Linked DNA regions of Homo sapiens: region 2 is linked to region 1. Evidence: fine-mapped expression QTL. A gene starts in region 1. The other region holds a variant in brackets. All regions are shown on one strand. Distances are from middle to middle.

The links.
Region 2: its variant is fine-mapped to the expression of CACFD1 in subcutaneous fat (GTEx, PIP 0.98).

What each region holds. Positions count from the first base shown.
Region 1 is chr9:133,458,397-133,461,301 of GRCh38, forward strand. CACFD1 (calcium channel flower domain containing 1) reads left to right here and starts at 1,582. Exons shown (of 5, transcript NM_017586.5): 1 at 1,582-1,791. The coding sequence starts at 1,671. It overlaps ADAMTS13 (ADAM metallopeptidase with thrombospondin type 1 motif 13), which reads left to right. Exons shown (of 29, transcript NM_139027.6): 29 at 578-990. The coding sequence ends at 784. RefSeq lists silencers at 1,178-1,397, 1,408-1,507, 1,798-2,097.
Region 2 is chr9:133,502,551-133,505,455 of GRCh38, forward strand. No RefSeq gene overlaps it. Among named protein-coding and RNA genes, the nearest start is that of MYMK, 21 kb to the right of the region's middle. The variant C/T (reference allele first, on the strand shown) is at 1,546.

The DNA of each region.
Region 1 (2,905 bases):
AATAGAAAAAGTAGCCAGGCATGGTGGCGTGTGCCTGTAATCCCAGCTACTTGGGAGGCTGAGGCACAAGAATCACTTGAACCCGGGAGGTGGAGGTTGCACTAAGCCCAGATCGCACCACTGCACTCCAGCCTGGGCAACAGAGTGAGACTCTGTCTCAAAAAAAAAAAAAAAAAAAAAGCGAAATGGTAAAGAATGGTAAAGACCTTTCTGATGTAGACTGACAGCTAACCCAAGACTGAAGCATAATTTTACAGTCTGATATAACTTGGACAGAATAGCACCCTGCACCCTCCCCGAGGTTTCAAGTGTCCTGGGAGAACTGTGTTCTGCAGGGTATCAGCTTCCCCAGAGGAGGCAGCCTGGCCCCGCTCTGGCACCCTGACTGTGTGTCCTTGGGGAAGTGATGTAACGTCCCTGGACCTCGGTTTTCTGGGTAGAGTAATGGCGTATTCCTAGTAGGGCTTTGTAAGCATTAAATGTGATCCGGAATCTGTGAGCCCTTGCACACGAAGGCTTCCGTGAGTGCTAATTATTACTTGTGGCCGGTCCTTCTGGGCTGCCCCTTTTCTCTCAGATCCGGGACACCCACAGCTTGAGGACCACAGCGTTCCATGGGCAGCAGGTGCTCTACTGGGAGTCAGAGAGCAGCCAGGCTGAGATGGAGTTCAGCGAGGGCTTCCTGAAGGCTCAGGCCAGCCTGCGGGGCCAGTACTGGACCCTCCAATCATGGGTACCGGAGATGCAGGACCCTCAGTCCTGGAAGGGAAAGGAAGGAACCTGAGGGTCATTGAACATTTGTTCCGTGTCTGGCCAGCCCTGGAGGGTTGACCCCTGGTCTCAGTGCTTTCCAATTCGAACTTTTTCCAATCTTAGGTATCTACTTTAGAGTCTTCTCCAATGTCCAAAAGGCTAGGGGGTTGGAGGTGGGGACTCTGGAAAAGCAGCCCCCATTTCCTCGGGTACCAATAAATAAAACATGCAGGCTGACCGGCGTTTTTTTCTTATAAGCTGTCCAGACCTGGCTTGAAAACCCATCCCATGGCAAGGCAGGGATTCGCTGGCCGCGGTTGGCTCTATCTTGATCTGAGCAAGCCGCTGGACGTCCCTAGTTATCTTCTTCCTATCCAGGAAGAAAATCCAATCAGGATTCCACTCCGAGGATGGCGCATTAGCCAGCTCCCTGCGAAGCCCCACCCGTGTGTCCTGGTGTGAGGCTCTGACCGCTAAGGTGTCTGCGCGCCTCCAGGCCCCGCCCCCTATGCTAATAAGCGCCCGCCTCCTTTGGGAGCAAGTCGCCGCAAACTGCGAGCCCCCGCCCCCTACGCTAATGACGCCCGCCCCCCTCGGGCACACCTCTCCGATGCCTGCGAGCCCCGCCCCGTATGCTAACGAGCTCCCCACCCCCAGCTCCTCGCCGCAGCCTGCGGGTCCCGCCCCCTACAATAATGAGCACCTACCTCCCCTCAAACGCCCCTAGTCGCGGCATGAGGGTCCCGCTCACTATGTTAATGAGCACCCGCCTCCCTTCGGGCGCGCCTCGCCGCAGCCTGAAAGCCCCGCCCCCTATGCTAATATGCTCCCTCTCCCACAAGGCAGCGCGCCGGCTCGGACGCGGCCGGCTACCGAGCCCTTTGTGAGGGCTGTGAGCTGCGCCTGACGGTGGCACCATGAGCAGCTCAGGTGGGGCGCCCGGGGCGTCCGCCAGCTCTGCGCCGCCCGCGCAGGAAGAGGGCATGACGTGGTGGTACCGCTGGCTGTGTCGCCTGTCTGGGGTGCTGGGGGCAGTCTGTGAGTATCCAGTCGGGGAGAGGGGCCGGCCCCGCCGCGCATGCGCTCCTCGCCCTGCCCTGCCCCGCCCCGCCCCGGCGGCCCCAGGGGAAAGGACCCGCTGGGGGTCGGGGGTCTGCCGGGCGCCTCCCGGGGCGGAGGAATGGCGGGGCCGCCGGGAGCCGGCGTCCTGGGGTTGCCATGGTTACCCGCTCGGGCCTGGGCGCCTTGGTACCCCGGGCTGGGCTGGGCTGGCGCTTCTGGGAACATTCCCGGAGGGACCAGAAACCCCAGGGCGGGGGGGCGGCGGGGGCGGGGGTGGGGCACCGGCCTGGGGCACGTGACTGAGCCCTCCCCCCGCTCCCCAGGGGCTTTTGTGAGACTTTCTCGGTGATGCTCACGGGGCGCATGCCCACCTGGCCCGTACTAAAGCGTCAACTGTTGACTTGGGCGTAGGTGACGGCAGCCACATTGCTAACCTTTGGGCAAGGATTGTTTGTAAGGGAGGCGGGTGCACGGCTGGCTAGATTTCTGGCAGGAAGCCACTGGGCGGAAGTTTGCTGAGGGTCAGGTGGTGTCAGGGCACAGGTGGCCCCTGGGGCCGCGGGGCAGTGAGCTGAGGGCCCGGCCTCTCCCTGGGTCCTCTGTCCGCTCTCATATCTCCCCCGTTGCTGCTGCCTTAGCCGCCTGTCACCGGCCTTCCTCCCCTTCTCCGCACGCATCCCAGTCACAGACCCTGACCTTAGGCTGCCAGGGAAGCTAGGCTCTTAAGCACAGCCAGAAAAGGACAAAGAGGGAGGCAGGTCAGCTCCAGGAGTGAATGGAAGCCGTACAGCTGGCCTTCCAGGGAAAGACAAGTCTGTCTGAGTGATACCCTTTCCTTTCCTGTCTGCCCTCAATCTTGTGGATTACTGGAGTGGGCAAGGTCTTAGAGAATGTCTGTCGAGGATGTCTGCAGGTTTTAAACAGTGCCTGCCTGGCAGAGAGGGCTAGCTCTGGGCCTGGGCAGGGCAGGCCCCATCAGCAATCCTGCCAGAAGGACCACCTTTTCAGGGTCACCTTGGGTTCCACAGCCTTTCCAGGTGGGTAGAGGGTGGAGGGAGGTTGAGGCAGGAGGGTGCTGGGCTAGGAGTGT
Region 2 (2,905 bases), 44 kb after region 1:
AGCATATTGCTAATTGGATTTCCAGAAAATGAAGAGAGATAGAATAGGAGTAGGGGCAATATTTGAAGAGGATTATGGCTGAAACTATTTCAGATATAATGAAAGATAGCAACCCACAAATTTAAGAAGCCCAGTGACTCTCAAGCAAGCCAAAGAAAAAGGATTCCACACGAGTCACATAAGAATAAAAATACAGAACATTGAAGACCAAGAGAAGTCTTATAAAAGAGCCCAAGAGAAAATATAGATTATCTTCAAAGATAGTTACGCTGAGAACTTACTATTCAGGAGCAACAATGGGAATTAGGAAACAGAGAAATGATGTCTTCAAAATGCTCAGAGCAAATGATTACCAACCTAGAATTCAATATCCGGTGAAAAAAATTAAAGATGCAAATGATTGTCAACCTAGAATTCAATATCCAGTGGAAAAAATAAAGACACAAAGGATTACCCACCTATACAATTCAATATTCAGTGAAAAAAATAAAGACAATCATAGGCAAATAAAAATCAAGAAGGTGTCCCACAAACAACCCTTGCTTAAGGAAATTTTTTGTAAAATTAATTTTATTTTTTAAGACAGGGTCTCACTCTGTTGCCCAGATGGGAGTGCAGTGGTGCAATCATGGCTCACTGCAGCCTTGAACTCTCAGACTTGGGTGATCCTCCCACGTCAGCCTCCTGAGTAGCTGGGACTGCAGGTGTGCACCACCATGCCCAGCTAATTCTTGTTTTTTTTTTTGTAGAGATGGGGGTCTCCATATGTTGCCAGGGCTGGTCTGGAACCCCTAGGCTCAAGCAATCCATCCACCTCAGCCTCCCAAAGTGCTGGAATTACAGGTGTGAGCCCACCATGCCCGGCCACTTGAGGAAGTTTTAAAAGATATGTTTGAGCCAGAAGGAAAATAACCCCAGATGAAAAAATTGGGGTATAAGAAGAGATGAAAGTCGAAGAGATTGTCATATGTGGGCAAATCTAAACAATTATTGGTGGTAAAAATGTCATGTGTTGTTTAAATGAAGATAAAAGAAAAATACAAGGTAATAATCGTCTTAAAGTTAGGAGGGAAATAATTGGAATTAAAAGGTTCTATGGTCCTGCGATGTTCAAGGGGAGGGTAAAGATATGAATTTACTAGAAACTTTGATGAACTACCACTAAAGGAATGGAATTAGCATATACATTCTAACTCTTTAAAGGGTTATGTATGTTTCCTCCCAGTCTGCTTCTTCGTGATGTCTTTTGAAGGGTAAATATTTACAATTTTGATGGTCTAGTTGATCAGTTTTTTTCTTTGATGGATCACACCTTTGGTGTCATATTTAAGAAATCTTTGCCTAATCCAAGGTCACAAAGATTTTCTCTGATGTTTTCTGCTAGAGGTTTTCTAGTTTTTGGAGTTAATTTTGGGGTGGGATGTGAAAAAAAGGTTGAGGTTCACTTTGATGCCTCGGGACATTGATTTGTTCCAGCATTATTTGTGTTAAAGACTGTCCTTTGCAGAGTGGGGGAATTCTCTTTTCTTTTCTTTTTTCTTTTTT[C/T]TTGACAGGGTCTTGCTCTGTCACCCAGGCTGGAGTGCAGTGGCGAGATCTCGGCTCACTGCAACCTCGACCTCCTGGGCTCAAGCAATCCTCCTGCTTCAGTCTCCTGAGTAGCTGGAACTACAGGTGTGCGCCACCACGCCCAGCTAATTTTTAAAATTTCTTTTGTAGAGGTGGAGTCTCGCTATGTTGCCCAGATTGGTCTTGAACTCCTGAGCTTAAGCAATCCTCCTACCACGGCTTCCCAAAGTGCTGAGATTACAGGTGTTAGCCATTGCACCCAGCCTGAGTGGGAGATTTTTACACCCCTCTCTCAGGAGTTGATAGCAAGTAGGCAAATACTTGGTAATGACAGATTTAAGCAGCATCGTCAAGAAGCTTGACTTGACGGACTCACACAGAAGGCCAAGGGCAGGACTACACGGGGCCGTCATGGAAGCTGACCACATGCTGGGCCATAGAGAGAGACAGCCGCTGTGAAGGCTTGCCGTCTCAGAGACTGTGTTTTCTGACCGACCTCAGTACCAGTTAGAACAATAATGATGATGGCGATAAAATAGTTTGAAATCGCCCTTATCTGCAAAGTAAGGAAGAAGACATCATCATGAACATTAGGAGGGCAGTCCGGTACCTGTCTCACAGGGCAGTTGAGAGACCTAACAGCCGCTATCCAGAAAGCACTTCTTAATTTTTTAATTAATTAATTAATTTTTGAGATGGAGTTTTGCTCTTGTTGCCCAGGTTGGAGTGCAATGGTGTGATCTCAGCTCACTGCAACCTCCACCTTCTGGGTACAAGCGATTCTCCTGCCTCAGCCTCCCTAGTAGCTGGGACTGCAGGATGCGCCACCACGCTCCGCTAATTTTTGTATTTTTAGTAGAGACGGGGTGTCACCATGTTGGCGAGGCTGGTCTCGAACTCCTGACCTCAGGTGATCTACCTGCCTCAGCCTCCCAATGTGCTGAGATTACAGGCGTGAGCCACTGCGCCTGGCCCATATTTTAAAATAATAATAATTATTATTATTTTTGTAGAGACAGGGTCTCCTTATATTACCCAGGCTGGTCTCGAACTCCTGGGCTCAAGCACATAAAGCACTTCTAACAGTGTCTGGCAGGCACTGCGAGAGCCAATGATGGGAGACTCAACCTCCTCCCCCTCCTTCGTGGCTTGTTTTCTGATTCATGTACTTGTTACTTGCTGGGTGCTGTCTGTGGGATCAGTCAGGCACTTGGCTGCCTAGAATTCTGTCCCACTGCACTGTGATGAGCCCAACAGCCAAGATCCCTGCGAGCTCACAGCTCAGGAGGCGGTGCCTAGGGGCTTCGCTGGTCCACAGTGAAGACCTCTGTTGGGCCAT